3 separate regions of the Homo sapiens genome follow, and all the other regions are linked to region 3. Evidence: fine-mapped expression QTL. A gene starts in region 3. Each other region holds a variant in brackets. All regions are shown on one strand. Distances are between the middles of the regions. Region 1 holds the start of CD300H (CD300H molecule (gene/pseudogene)). Region 2 overlaps CD300H (CD300H molecule (gene/pseudogene)). Region 3 holds the start of CD300LD (CD300 molecule like family member d).

Region 1 (5,230 bases), 23 kb before region 3:
AAGGAGCAGAGCTGAAGGCAGCATGGCAGCCCCAGCCCTCTGGGTCATCTCACCAGCATGGAAGTCCCTTGTGGCAGCAGGGTCTGAGGCTCTTTTTCCTTCTCACATCTCTCGTTTCCTTCTCTGGCCTCTTCTGGGTTTGGTTCTCAGAGCTGGTGAGAGTATGGAGGAAGCTGGGGCCATGGGGCACTATGTGGTCAGGTGAAACAATTTTGAGAACTTGCTGAAGTTCTTCCTAATAAAACATGTTTGCATTTGCTGTTCCTCTTTCTGTTCCCAGTAAAGACAATGTCCCTCCCATTACCCACAGCTGACAGGCCTGCCCTTCTCCAAATCACAGCATGGCCCAGGACCAGTGAGACTGGGCCAGCTGCCATCTGGATTTTCTGGGCAGGTCCTCCCCTCTGTGAATGGCCAGTTTTCTGTGGCCAGCATGAGCCGCCCCAGGGTATGGCTCAGCCTTCACTGGATGGATGAGACTGGCTATTTGCAGAGCCCAGTGTAAAATCAAACCTAGGTTTCCAAAATTATTAAGAATTTCAAGATGGTGACAGCCAAGCATGAAACGTGGGACCCTTCTAAGAGCCGGGCCTGCGAGACTGCACAGGGTAGGGGCACACCCACGATGCCCGCTGGTCTATCTCTGATCCTTGGTGGTACAGATAGGCTGGGTGCAACCTCAGAGGCTCTGACCTCTTAACCCCTCACTCTTGCTCTGACCTCAGCAGACCCCAGAGGTCCCTGTCTTGGCCACGTGCCTGACTGTTTCCACAGACCTGGCACCACGCAGAGCTTGGTGGACCATCTATAAGCCTTGCTTTTGACCTGTGTGGCTCTTCCTGTCGCCCAAGATGACCACATATAAGAGTTTCAATATATCAAGAGCTAACTCGGGGGAACCTGGCCAGAAGTGTGCCTGATATACACAGAATGGCTGTGGAGGATTTATAAATGCAAGCACAGCTTCAGAAGGCCTCACTCAGGGACTTAGATTTCTGGAACTAGGAGACTCCAAATTCCTGGCATTCTGTTATCAAATGTCTCCTCCTTGGTGTTTCAGTAAATGTGTTTCCTGCTTGTTCATTTTTTGCTGCATGTGGAGTCCTCATATTTCTGTGTGTGTTCACATGTGTGTATATGGGTGTGGTATGAGGGATATATGTGTAGTGTGTGTGGTGTGGGTAGTGTGTGTAGTATGTGTGGTATGTGTGTATGTAGGTACATGTGATGTATGTGCATGGTGTGTGGGATGGTGTGTGTGTAGTGTGTGTGTATGTGTGGTGTGAGTGGTGTGTGTGAGATGTGTGTAGTGTGTGTGTATGTGTGTGGTGTTTGGGGTCGTGTGTGTGGTGTGAGTGGTGTGTGTGGTGTGGGTGGGATGTGTGTAGTGTGTGTATGTGTGTACATGTGGTGTATGTGTGTGATGTGTGGGGTGGGGTGCATGTAGTGTGTGTGTTTGCATGTGTGTGTGGTGTGTGTGCACAGGTGGTGTGTGTGTAGTGTGTATGTGTGTGCACGTGTGTGGTGTGAGATGTGTGTACATGTGGTGTATATGTACAGTATGTGGGGTAGGGTGTGTGTAATGTGTGTGTGGTGTGTGTGATGTGAGTGGTGTGTATGAGATGAGATGTGTGTAGTGTGTATGTGTGTACGTGTGTGTGGTGTGTTGGGTGGTGTGTGTAGTGTGTATATGTGTGCATGTGTGGGAGTGTATGTGGTGTGTGCGTGTCCATGTGTGGTGTACGTGTGTGGTATGTGGGGTGGTGTGTGGTGTATGTGTGTGGTATGTGGGGTGATGTGTGTAGTGTATGTATGTGTGTGCATGTGTGGGCGTGGAGGGTGTGGGTGGTGTGTGTGTACATGTGGTGTATGTGTGTGGTGTGTGTATGTGTGTGCATGTGTGGGGGGTGTGGGTGGTGTGTGTCTACATGTGGCGTATGTGTGTGGTGTGTGGGGTGGTGTGTGCATGTGTGGGCGTGGGGAGGTGTATGGGTGTGTGTGTGTGTACATGTGGTGTATATGTGTGGTGTGTGGGTTGGTGCGTGCATGTGTGTGGAGGGGAAGCAGGAGCTGGGAGTGATAAAGATGTCTCCCCTTGCAGCCTGCAGAGCCGGTTGCGAGCCCCGCCCTCTGTGCCTAGCTCTGGGCGCTAAGGAAAGGCTTGCCTGGCCCTCCCTGACTCTGCGTCAAGGGCTGCTCAACGTGCCTTTCTTGGGAAGAAGGGATCTGAGTCTGTGAAGGAGATGACGCACAGCTGCAGACTTTTCCAGAAAACATTCTCGCCATCCTTGTCTGGACAAACCACCGGGTGCACAGGGTTGTATTAGTCAGCTCTTTCTGGCTCACATTGCCATAGCAAAACTCCTAATCCCAGCATGCTGTAACCACAGAAGCTTGTTTCTCGCTCGTCTATACGCAAGCGGTGAGTCAGCATTGCTTGGGCACCAGGCTGCGGAGCCCAGTCCGCTAGAGGAGAGGGAAGGCACC[G/A]GGTGGCTCTCTGAGCCTCTGCTCAGAAGGCGCACATGCGGCTCCTGCTCACCGTTCATCGTCATAGGGTCAAGCCTGAAGTCAGTGGGAAGGAGAAGCACAGTCCTCTTACAGGACAAGGCGGCAAGTCACTGACCACAACCACAGAACCCACTACTGGAGGTTCCCTAACCGGGCTGGAAGGGTGCCCCGCAGCACACCGACTCCGTGCTTCTCGCTCATCCAAGGTCGGGGCAGGGAGAGGCTGCAGGGTCTGCTTAGAAACAGCCTGTGTGTGTTTCATTTTTTTAGCTAGGACCAGACAGTTTGCCAAATGCAAAGGACATGGCAATGCCACAGGGAACCCACCTTTGAAGCAGATGTACTCTGGGCCCTGGAGTCCCCCAGGAGATGACAAATTCCTTGAAGAGATGACCCACATCTGGGACATCCAGGCTTTTTCCATGTCAAGGCCAGCATCTGGAGCCGCTGTCCCTTCCCCAGCAGGCCCTTGTCCTTCTGTCTCTGAAACCTGTCCTGGAAAATGCTGTCCGCTCCAGGAGGGCAGAGCTAGGGGAGGACTGAGAATAATGAACACTGGCCATGAGGCACAGGAGGGCGGGGAGCCCGGGGCCCTGCCTGGCACTGCACCACACTGAGACCCCCACCATCGCTGCCCTTGAGGGACAGCTCTTGGGGCTTCCAGAAAGTTAAGATCTCATCAGTGAGGGGTGCGTTCTTAGGGCAAACTCGGGGCATGTGATGTGTAGGACAGTGTGAGTAGCCCACACATTTCTCTCTGCCTTTCGGGGCTGTGCTTGTCTTTCTGCTTCCTCGAAAACCGTCATCCTCCCTTCTCACTCTCCCAGGATGAGCTCAGACCACACCTCTCCTGGAAGGCATCCCTGCCTGCTCCAGGCCTTCCAGACCCCTCCCTCTGGGGTTCCTGTTACCTGCAATGCTTATTTCTGTATTTAATCTCATGTCCCTGTGCTGTCATTGTCCTGTTGCATGGCATCCATTTCCAGGTGAGGCTGTAGCCTCCACAAAGGCAGGACCAATCTGGGCACCCGGAGACGCAGACAGAGCTCGGCCCCAGCCTTGTGAGCTGAATTGGAGGGTGAGAGCTCCGATCCTTCCATATTTTCCAGGGGAGGGGATCAGGAATGTATTAAGGCATTGGGCCTCTCTTCTCTCACCTCTACTACCCGACGTCAATCCATTTGGGGAGTAGTTCTCAGTATCTTGTGCATCATGGTGAGAATGGGCAAGTGCCCAAGGATGGTGGACCCCACTGCCCACTTTCTTCCCTCCCCACTGGCACTCAAGGGAGACGTCACCAAGAGGGCAGCCTCCTGACCGGCTCTGGGCAATGGATGCCTCTTTGGGATCTTGTTACAAATACAGGGCTCTCTAGGGAGCAGGGTGTGGGGAGGGTCTTCCCAACATGGGGGCTGGGGTGCTATAGGGAGCCCGGCTCAGAGAGGGTCTCTACCTGACTCTGATGATGTGGGCCATGTAGCACAGTGAGGAAGGTTCTGGCCATAAGCTGGGAGCCCTGGCTCAGATTTTAAGGTCTGCTGTTCACTAGTTATATGACTTTAGGCAAATCAGCAAAAGTCTCTTAGCATCAGTCTCCTCATCTGTGAAATAGGAATAAAAATATTCACCCTGCTCAGTCCCAGGAGTTGAGCAAAGGCATTTGAAGGTGGTGGCATCCCTCTGGGAAACTTTCCTCTTTTGATCTTCTACGTACCATGCACTCTGTATATTTAAATCCTGCATACCCATCCCAACACCCCTGCCAGGTCACTTTTAAATAAGATGACTGGAGCTGGAAAGACGAACTAAACTGTCATGATGGGAAGTGGGGAGGTCAGGATTTGAACCCAGGTCTTCGGTGGGGTCCCACCTCTGGCTCTCATGATGCAAGGTACGGATTGCAACACTCAGGCAGGGGTGAGATGGGTTGAGAGATGGCAAGTGGAAGAGGCCTCCAAGTCTTATTTCATTCAATATCTGTTTGCAGAATAGCAGGAAGTATCTTCAGGGGAAATTAACAACACAACAAAGTCTGCTTCTGGGTGTCTGCTATGGATTGATGAGTTCCCCCAAAAATTCATATGTGGAAGCCCTAACCCGTAATGTGGTGATATTAGGAAATGAGCCTGTGGGAGGTAATTAGGGTTAGATGAGGTCATGAGGATCAGGCCTTCATTGTGGGATTAGTGCCCTTATCAGAAGAAGAAGAGAGATCTCACTTTCTTTCTTAGTCCATTTAGGCTGCTATTTTAAAATACCATAGACTGGGTGGGTTATGAACAACAGAAATGCATTACTCACAGTTGTGGAGGCTGGAAAGTCCAAGATCAAAGTGCTAGCAGATTCAGTGTCTGTTGCGCACTCACCTTCTGGTTCATAAAGAGTACTTTTTTTTGCTGTGTCTTCACATGGTGGAAGGGGCAAGACAGCTCTCTGGGGTCTCTTTTACAAGGGTACTAATCCTGTTCATAAGGGTTACACCCCCACAACTGAATTATCCCCAAGGATCCACCTCCTAATACCAACACACTGGGAATAAGTTTCAACACATGAATTCTGGAGAAACACAAACACTCAGACCATAGCACTCTCTCTGCCATACGAGGATACAGAAAGATGGCAGCCATCTGCAAGTCAAGAAGAGAGTCCTCACCAAACACCAAATCTACCAACATCTTGATCTTGACTTCCCAGCCTTCAGAACTATAATAAATAAAGGTCC
Region 2 (5,230 bases), 32 kb before region 3:
AAATCCACTTAGACATGAGCCAGAGGACATGTTAGAGGAGGCTGGAGGGGAGAGGCAGTTGTAGAGGGTGAGATGAGAGTTTTTAAGCTGAAACTAAACATTGTCCAAGCAGTGGCCTTTTCATATCCACATCCCTCTTTTTCCACATCCCCCATCGCTAAGCCCTGGGAACTGCTCATTTGTCATCTATTTCTGTACTTTTGTCATTTTGAGGGTGTTATAGAAATGGAGCAATACGGTACGTAAACTGCAGATTGGAGCTTTTCACTCAGCATAACCTCCTCGAGATTCATCCAAATTGTTGCGTACATCAATAGCTTGCTCCTCTCTAGTGCTGGAGTGGCATTCTGTGGTAGGAATGAACTGCAATTTGTTGAACCGTTCACCCCTGAAAGGATGTCTGGCTTGCTTCCAGTTCAGGACTATTATGAATAAAGCTGCTGTGAATTTTCATGCACAGGTTTTTGGGTGAACATAAGTTTCCATTCTCTGAGATAAATACCTAAGAATGCGTTCACTGGATCATATGGTCCTTGCATGGTTGGTTTTGTAAGAAACTGACAAACTATTTTCCAGAGTGTTTGCACCATTTTACATTCCTGCCAGCCACATAGGAGTGATCCAGTTTCACCACATCCTTCAGCATTTGGTGTTGTTAAGGGAGGAGGCCACTCCTCATATTGTCTTATGCCCAATTTCTGCCTCCAAAGAAAGAAGAAGTAAAAACTAAAAGGCAGAAATGAAATCCACAAGCAGACAGCCCAGCACCACACCCTGGGCCTGGTAAAGATAGACCCCTGACCTAATCGGTTATTTGCATAAAAAAGCACTGTGAAGATCCCTGTCCTGTTCTGTTCCGTTCTAATTAACAGTGTATGCGTCCCCTAGTCACGTACCCCCTGCTTGCTCAATCAGTCAGGACCCTCTCATGCAGACCCCCTTAGAGTTGTGAGCCCTTAACAGGACAGGAACTGCTCACTCAGGTAGCTCAGCTCTTGAGACAGGAGTCTTGCCGATGCTCCCAGCCGAATAAACCCCTTCCTTCTTTAACTCGGTGTCTGAGGAGTTTTGTCTGTGGCTCTTCCTGCTACATAGTCACTATTTTTTTATTTTAGCCACTCAGATAGGCAAATATATCCATCCAAATAACTCTCTCCCAGGGCTAATTCCTAGAGAAAGTAAACAACTGGCCTGCAAGTCTGCCTTTGATATGCAAACCAAACCATTCCCTATTCCATGCCCCCACCTGCTTCCTTTCAGCAGGCTCCTGCAGTCTGGGATATTTTCTTTCCCCTGCCCTAAATCACCCCAGGGCCAGGTACCAGACAACTAGAGACCACTCTTGTATCCTAGCCCATCAGAATAATTCAAACTACACACTCCGAAGCCTGCTGTTTGCTTACCTTACCTTGCCTATCACTTCCTCTGAAAACCATGATAAAGGCTCCCACATACATTTCCTCTCTCTCTCTCTCTGCCCCTTCACCCGCCCTCGTGCTTCCCCGTGTGGCCCTACATGGCACACTGCACCTCCTGCTTCTAGGGGTCTTTGAGTAGAAACTTATTTCTTTATGACAGTCATTTCCGTATCTGCATGCCTTACCATATCTGGTTAAAACAAATCCTGGTACATTTTTTTGTTTTGTTTTGAGACAGGGTCTCACTGTGTCACCCAGGCCACAGTGTAGTGGTATGATCATAGCTCACTGCAGCCTCCATCTCCCAGGCTCAAGCATTCCTCCTGCCTCAGCCTTCTGAGAAGCTGGGACTACAGGTGCGTGCCACCATGCCTGGCTAAATTTTTTTTTTAAGTAGGCATGAAGTCTTGCTATGTTGCCCAGGCTGAGTTCAAGCAATCATCCCGTCTCAGCCTCCCAAAGTGTTGGCATTAGAGATGGGAGCCACCATGCCCAGCCTCAGGTACATTTTTAAACATGTCCTCAATACATTAACCTGGTCCCTGAAAAACTCAGAGGGGTCCCATCATATAACAGTAAACCAACTTAAACTGAACCAGTTGATGGCCCAATCACAGTTTTGTTTTGTTTTTGTTTGTTTGTAGGGAGTTCCCTACAATCTACTGTCAGGAAAGGAAAAAAATCCAATATGGTTTATGAGCAGAAGAACTTGCAACAGTATGATTTCCTCTGTGCAGGATTCAAAAACAACCATGTCCTTGCTCAGCACACTAAAGCAAGGGAGTGATTACTCCAAGAAATATTCAGATAGTATTTAACCCTGACAGTAGGGGAAAGACAGTTATGAGGTCAGGGAGAGGCATATGGGGGGCTTCAAACATCTTAATAATGATTGATTTCCTAGGCTGAATGGTGGGTACACATGTTTATTTTTAGTCCTTGAACTGTATAGATACCTCATATACATACTCTTGTGTATGGGATGTATTTTATTTATTTATTTGTTTATCTGAGACAGGGTCTCCCTCTGTCACCCAGGCTGGAGTGCAGTGGCACAATCTCGACTCAATGCAACCTCCACCTCCGGGGCTCAAGCGATCCTCCTGTCTCAGCTTCCCAAGTAGCTGGGATCACAGGCATACACCACCACACCCTGCTAATTTTTGTATTTTTTTGTAGAGATGAGGTCTGACCATGCTGCCCAGGCTGCTCTCAAACTCCTGGACTCAAGTGATCCACCTGCCTTGGCCTCCCAAAGTGCTGGGATTGCAGG[T/G]GTAAGCCACCGCACCCGGCCTACATTTTTTTTTAACTTTTAAAAAGTATCCGGTGATAAGATGGAAAGAAATATGAGGGTCAGGGTCAGAAGTCCTTTTTGCAGTCAGAGGGGCTGTGTCTCTGGACAGGGTTCCAATGGGCATGGGGTGTTGCAAGTTCTCCTGTTCATGACTCTGTCCAAGGAGTCCTCCAAGGCCTGTTCACCCAGAGGATAGCACCGAGTATGCTCAGGAGCAGAGGCACCTTCAGGAGTGGGAGAAGCAGGAAGCAGGTGCTGCTGGGCAGGGACCTGTGAGACGGAGAGAGTGACTAGTAGTAAGCTGCCTTCTCCGGGGAGTCCCAGGCTCTGCCTCTCCCCCGCCTTCCCTCGAGGTCTCGTCCTGTGCCCTCAAACCCAATGTCAGCATCAAGCCTGGTGGGTACCAGGGTCAGGCAGCCCCATGCTGAGGGTCACAGGCTCCTGACCTTCATTCAGCTCAGAATTAACCTTGAGTGTCAAGACCCAACAGATGCCGGAGGTGAGGGATAGAGAAGAAGAGAGATATGTTAACCCAGGCAGGAACTGGCTCCCAGAAACAACTTCCTGAACAGATCCCTCAGCCACTGATGCCCGCAGGAACTCAGCTCTTGCTGGGAACAACCTCAAGGATGAAATACTCCTTTACAACCATCTTCACTCAAATTAAATATGATCACAAGAACAGCTCTTTTGCTTAAACGGCTTAACAATCTCAACCCCAAGGAGTGAACTCTCCAAGCTCAGCCCATGGCCAGTCGTCTCGCTCCGTGGGTCCCACTACACTGCTCCCATTCCAACTCCTCAGATGCTGCATTCTCTCCCCAAAATGGGCCGCTGTGCCATCTCTCCACCTTCCCAGCCCTCTACCTGCAGGGCTTGTCTGATGCCCTCCCTGATCCTCTCTAAGACGAGTCCCTGTAACAAACCCTGTTGGCGCCCTGCCCCATATCACCTTTGCCCACTTGAGCTCCTGGCAGCTGCAGGCAGTCTTGGCCCCACCAAGGATTTCCCAGCTCAAGCTCCCCATCTCTGCCTGAGGTTATCTACAAGAGTGCACACATTTTCCTGTGCAGAGCAGGCCAGATGGGCCACAGAATTCATGCCCCCAGGAGTGCCTGCTGCCTGGAAGACTCTGTCTCCAGTTCTGAGGAACGTTCTACACAGTCTCTCATAGGGTGCCCAGAGGGGTTAATCTCCAGTGACTCCAGTTACTACGGGGATAACCCCTTCATTACAGCACATTTCACCGCCCTTCCCCTTTCCTGGTCTCACTTTCTGCTCTCTCAATGTACTTCTTGAGATTACCTCTCAATAAACAAATTGCTCCTAAGTCCTTGTCTCAGGACCTGATTTGGGGGAAACCCAAACTAAGACAGTCCCTTTGTTCTTTGTTTCTGTGGAACATCTTGTATTTCCTTGATAGCCCAAATCATGCCCCACCAGCTTCCCACACACTCTGGCACCCTATCTCTTTACACCTGCTTTATTTTCCTCCACAGTAATTATCATTCGTTGACATATTTCCTTGATCTATCGTCTCTCTGTCTCTATTACATATCTCTCTCTGCCAGCTATCATCTCCATCTGTCTTTCCAGTCAGCCAGCCAGCCATCTCTATCATCTTTCATATCATATCTATCATCTGTCTGTTTATCTATCTATCCACCTATCTATCTATCTATCTATCTATCTATCTATCCATCTATCTGTCTGTCCACCTGTCTGTCTGTCTATCTATCTATCCATCTGGCCATTGCCTGAATCTACCTATTTGCAACTTCCTCAAGAGCACAATCTTGCCCCTTTGTTCACTGTTGCATCTCTAGAATCTCCATCAGTTTCTGGCGCATAACAAATAAACACCTGTTGGCCGAGCACGGTGGCTCACACCTGTAATCCCAGCACTTTGGGAGGCCGAGGCGGGCAGATCACGAGGTCAGGAGATCGAGACCATCCTGGCTAACATGGTGAAACCCCCGTCTCTACTAAAAATACAAAAAAAAAAATTAGCCGGGCCTAGTGGCGGGCGCCTGTAGTCCCAGCTACTCAGGAGGCTGAGGCAGGAGAATGGCGTGAACCCGGGAGGCGGAGTTTGCAGTGAGCCGAGATCGTGCCACTGCAGTCCAGCCTCGGCGATAGAGCTAGACTCTGTCTCAAAAAATAAATAAATAAATAAATGTTGAGTGGGTGAATAATCAAGGAAACCTGTGTCTAGGAAGCCCCACCCTAGGAAAGAAGCTGCACACATGGCAAAAGACACTGGGACACGTGCATTTTACCCTTGGCATTGGCTGGGCCTGGTGGGAGATGCAGGTGTCTTCACAGAGTTCTCAGTACTGGAGGCTGAGGATAAAGAACAGAGGTTCAGTGCCCTACGCCTGACTCTTCCCAGCTGAGTACCTGGTACCTGCATGGTTCTGACTTCATAAAGCAGAGGACGCTCAAGGAGGCAGCTGGACAGATGTTCTAGGACCATCGTCTTCCAATAGGCAGACCAAAGCCTGACTGGAGTAACAGA
Region 3 (5,230 bases):
ACATGTTGTGGGGGGCACCAGTTGGGAGTTAATTGAATCATGGGGCGGTTTCCCCCACATTGTTCTCGTGGTAGTGAATAAGTCTCATGAGAGCTGATGGTTTTATAATGGGAAACCTCTTTCACTTGGCTCTCATTCTCTCTCTTGCCTGCTGCCATATAATACATGCCTTTCACCTTCCACCATGATTGTGAGGCCTCCCCAGTCATGTGGAACTGTGAGTCCATTAAACCTCTTTTTCTGTGTAATTTACTCAGTCTCGGGTATGTCCTTATCAGCAGCGTGAAAATGGACTAATACACTGTGACTTCGTTTTCTATAAGTGGGAATAGTAATGGCATCTACCTCTATGTTACTATATTATGTTTGTTATTATTATTATTATTATTATTACCCCTGGATGAATGAAAACTTTAGACTTCATTGGAATGTCTTGAAAAACCAGGGTCACCATGGTGGGAGCGGAAGACAATTTCACCATAAACAGGCAGAGCTCCACAACCCAAGGAATTCCTGGAACAGAAATTGGACTCCATGCCCAAATCTGCTTTCTATGGCATCTGAAGGGAACTAAGAAACTACACACGACCTCCTGGGGAAAGATGGGTATAGGGGCTTCATTTGTTCACTCTGAAAAAAGTTCTACATCAGAATGGAAAGACAACAATTAAGGTAAATATTTAAAGAAAAACTACATCTGGAAGTTATTTATAAGAAATAAGAGCTGGGTGTGGTAGCTCACACTTGTAATATAACAACTTTGGGAGGCTGAGGCAGGAGAATCGCGTGAGCCCTGGAGCTTGAGAGCAGCCCTGGCAACATAGCGAGACTAAATAAATAAATAAATATTAGCTGGGTGTCGCACCACATGCCTGTAGTCCCAGCTACTCACTCAGGAGGCTGAGGTGGGAGGATGGCTTGAGCCTGGGAGGTCAAGGCTGCAGTGAACCCTGATCCCAGCACTGTACTCCAGATTGGGTGACAGAGCACACCCTGTCTCAGAAGGAAGGAAAGGAAGGAGAATATATCTGAAAATTGTTTACAGAATATAAATTTGAAGCCAGGCATGGTGGCTCACACCTATAATCCCAGCACTTTGGGAGGCCAAAGTGGGAGGATCACTTGAGCCCAGGAGTTTGAGACCAGCCTGGGCATGAAAGTGAGTCCTCATCTCTACAAAAAAAAAAAAAATAAAAATAATAATAATAATAATAATAATCTATTTTAAAAGAAAATAAATTTGAGATTGGAAGGAAAAATTTTCTTACAAAGCTTGATCTGAGTATAGATAATATGAGAAGCACATAGATTTGTTACATTTTAACAGAAATGAAAACACTACGTATCAAAATTTGTTGACATGACAGCCAAAGCTGTACTCAAATATAAATCCTTGGGAAAAAGGTTTGATGCTTCCTCAAAAAGTTAAACATAGAATTAACATAGGATTCAGCCATTTTACCCCTAGATATATACCCAAGAGAACTGAAAACATATCTCCATACAAAACTGTGCTATGAAAGTTCATAACATTATTACTAACAATTTTTAAAAGGTAGAAACAACCCTAAGGTTCATTGACAAATGACTGGAGAAACCAAATGTGGTATATCCACTGTGAAATACTATGCAGCCATGAAAAAGAATGAAGCTTTGATTTGTGCTACAACACAAAGTAACCTTGAAACATCATGCTAAGTGAAAGAAGCACTCCAGCCTGGGTGACAGAGCGAGACACCAGCTCAAAAAAAAAAAAAAAAAAAAGTTCTTCAAGAATGGACTCACTCATTAGTTCCTTCCTTCATTGATATCTGTTCATTCATCTGTTTATATGGAACAGTCAGGGTTGAGAACCACTGTTCCAACAAGAAGCTATACTTGTTTTGTTTTGTGTGTGTTTGTTTCTGCAGCATCTAACACAGAACCTGTCAGATAACAAAAACTTGATTGCTATTTAATGAATATGGGCATGGATGGATGAATTGGCGCTGTCATTTTCCCTGACATGTCTCCTTCCTGAGAACAGAGCGTCTCTGTCTCCAAGCCAGCCGCTGTCATTCCAGTGCCTTAAAGCTCCAGCCACACTCACCTGGGAGGATGAGAAGCAGCAGAGATGGGGACAGCCACATGGTCCTGTCTCCTCTCCTCTCCTTGGTGATCACAGGTGTCTGGTGCCCTTCAGGGACTTGAATCCAAGCTCGGAAGTCAACACCGCAAACCTACTCGAATCTCCTTCAAGTCTCTTGCTCACTTCCTGTTACATCTGTAGCTACTTCTCTTTTTACATATTAGGAGAAAAGAGGTGTCATTCTTTGAAAAGACTAAGGTACAGTGTATGTTGCAAGGTGTGCCCAAACTTTTGTGCATGTGGAAAAGAAAATGTGTCCGGGACTGGTCAGGTTTGCACGGGAGTGCACGTAGGAGCCAAGGAGCAGGAGGAGCCAGGAGGAACCCAAGCATTGAGGAGCTGCGGGATCTACTGCCTGGAGGAGAGGACGGACAAGGCCAGCCATGAGGAGTGCAGGGAGAGGAGCACTTTGGGAAGACCACAGTGCACAGGACTCACACCCAGCCTTGCTGGAGAAAGCCCATGCCCCAGGCTTCTTCCAGGCAGCCCCACTGTAAGACATCTCATTGCCTCTTCCTGCCCTGGGCTGTCTGACCCACTGCCCCTTCCCCCAGGAACACTTCCACTGGGATCATGAGTCACTCTGAAGCCACTCTGAAATCACTCTGAAGCCAAAGCTGGGCTCAGTGGGGAAGGTCAGGAATGGAGAAATTGCCTTTTCTCGTTAGCCTCCTCTTGCCCTGATTTCATCCTCCCTATCCCTGCACACTTTCCCCTGGCTGCTGTTGTAATCTACTTGTTCTGCTGACGCCCGAACTGACTTCTTTCCCGGTCTCTCCCCACTTTCTTTAGATGGTCCCTTCCCTCTTTCTCTCCCTTTCCCTCCTGAATCGATTCATTTTTTCTCTCCTGTTTTATATTTTCCATATCTGTGGGCTTTGTTCTACATTTGGGGAGCTTTTTATATTGTTTATTTCATGCTTGTACTTTCCCTTCCAATCCTTGGATCAAATATTGATTTTAGAGACTGTATTTTTATTTCGAAAAGTTTTTTTGGTTCTTTGATTACTGATGTTTTCAAACTCTCTTCTGTTCCTTGAACTATATCCCTCCACTCAGTGGTCACATCTTTGTTTTGTTGTCTGCTTCTTCTATATTATGAGCCTTCCTCAAGTGTCTGCTGATTCTTGGTTATCCAATCATAGTTGAGAACAAGATAAAGTGTAGCTAACTGAGACCTCAGAGTATGTAGGAGTAAATAGTATATAAAATAGCTCTGGTGGCTCATGCCTGTAATCCAGCACTTTGGGAGGCCAAGGCGGACAGACCACCTGAGGTCAGGAGTTCGAAACCAGCCTGGCCAACATGGAGAAACCCCATCTCTACTAAAAATACAAAAATTAGCCAGGTGGTGGCACACGCCTGTAATCCCAGCTACTCAGGAGGCTGAGGCAGGAGAATCGCCTGAACCTGGGAGGTGGAGATTGCAGTGAGCCCAGATTGCACCACTGCTCTCTAGCCTGGGCAAAAAAACTAGTTCCAAAAAAGACACTTGTACACGCATGTTTATAGCAGCACAATTTGCGATTGAAAACATAGGGAACCAGCCTAAATGCCCATCAAGCAATGAGTGGATAAAGACAATGCGGTGTACATATACACCATGGAATACTATTCAGCCACAAAAAGGAACAAAATAATGGCATTCACAGCAACCTGGATGGAGTTGGAGATCATTATTCTAAGTGAAATAACTCAGGAATGGAGAACCAAATATTGTACATCCTCACTTATAAGTGGGAGCTGCGCTATGAAGATACAAAGGCACAAGAATGATACAATGGATTTTGGGGACTTAGGGGAAAGGATGCAGGGGATGAGGGATAAAAAACCATACATTGGGTACAGTGTACACTGCTCCAGTGAAGGGTGCACCAAAATCTCAGAAGTCACTGCTAAAGACCTTATCCTTGTAACCAAAAGCCATCTGCTCCCCAAAAACTATTGAAATAAAATAAAATATAAAAAGAAAGAGAAAGAAAAGAAAATAGTTCCAATTTATCATGCCAAATTGTTTGAACCCTTGATTCTTTCTTGACTTACAAGCTACACTTTAAGGGGCGTGGGCAGAGAGCGGTCTTCTAAACTCTAGACTGAAGAGGATTGAAGTTGAGCTCCAGCATTCTCACTGCCATGGCTTCCCAGATATTACATTAAAATAAAGAATTCCTGCTCTTTTGCCTGGGGGTCAGTGCCTGCCTCCAGGCATTTGGGGTATATGTAAAGATGTACATGTTTGGCCGGGCACAGTGGCTCACATCTATAATCCCAGCACTTTGGGGGGTCGAGGCGCGTGGATCACCTGAGGTCAGGAGTTCAAGACCAGCCTGGCCAACATAGTGAAACCCCGTCTCTACCAAAAAATACAAAAATTAGCCCAGCATGGCAGCGCACGCCTGTAATTCCAGCTACTTGGGAGGCTGAGGCAGGAGAATCACTTGAACCTGGGAGGCGGATGTTGCAGTGAGCCGAGATCACACCATTGCACTTCAGCCGGGGTGACAGAGTGAGACTCCATCTCAAAAACAAAACAAAACAAAACAAAAACATGTTTGTGGAACTGCTCCATGAACAAAGCTCCAATTGGGTCCCCAGTCTCCATTCCCACTTCTGACCCACACTCTTCATCACACCTGCTGGCTCTGAGTTCAAAGCCTCCCCTGAGTTTTATCAGGTGGGTCAATTAGAAGTAGGAGTTGCAAAATGCAATTTATTTTATCTGCCCTTTACTCTGAGGGTACACCCAATATGCCCCAGACCACCATACCCCTAATCTTTTGACACGGCAGGCCCCTAAACCAGTGTAGGGTTTATCTCCCAGCCTCTGGAGCACATCCAGTTGCTAGCCTCTTCTTGTTATCAGGTGCAATTAGCATGATGTCATAAACACAGGGGACTACCTTTATGTTCTGGGCAATGGCTGGACGATTCAGGTTTCTTAGAACAATACTACAAGGAGAAGAAAATTAACACAGTCCTGGAACAAGACTGTGAAAGTATACTGTTGTCCATGCCAAGCGAATGCGCCTGCCTCTGTTCCTCCTTCCTGATGGTGGCGGAAAGGATGCTTTTGCCAGATCAACAGTCACACACAACACACCA

Evidence for each region. PIP is the estimated chance that this variant, and not a neighbour inherited with it, causes the effect.
Region 1: its variant is fine-mapped to the expression of CD300LD in whole blood (TOPMed, PIP above 0.99).
Region 2: its variant is fine-mapped to the expression of CD300LD in whole blood (TOPMed, PIP 0.95).

What each region holds. Positions count from the first base shown.
Region 1 is chr17:74,567,296-74,572,525 of GRCh38, forward strand. It overlaps CD300H (CD300H molecule (gene/pseudogene)), which reads right to left and starts at 214. Exons shown (of 4, transcript NM_001405511.1): 1 at 54-214. RefSeq lists enhancers at 1,561-2,291, 2,292-3,021. The variant G/A (reference allele first, on the strand shown) is at 2,488.
Region 2 is chr17:74,557,843-74,563,072 of GRCh38, forward strand. CD300H (CD300H molecule (gene/pseudogene)) reads right to left here. Exons shown (of 4, transcript NM_001405511.1): 3 at 4,992-5,055; 4 at 2,329-2,982. The coding sequence ends at 2,859. Among named protein-coding and RNA genes, the nearest start is that of CD300H, 7.1 kb to the right of the region's middle. The variant T/G (reference allele first, on the strand shown) is at 2,692.
Region 3 is chr17:74,590,074-74,595,303 of GRCh38, forward strand. It overlaps CD300LD (CD300 molecule like family member d), which reads right to left and starts at 2,210. Exons shown (of 4, transcript NM_001115152.2): 1 at 2,090-2,210. The coding sequence starts at 2,129. CD300LD-AS1 (CD300LD antisense RNA 1) reads left to right here. Exons shown (of 3, transcript NR_171003.1): 2 at 446-672; 3 at 1,911-4,136. RefSeq lists an enhancer at 2,114-2,243.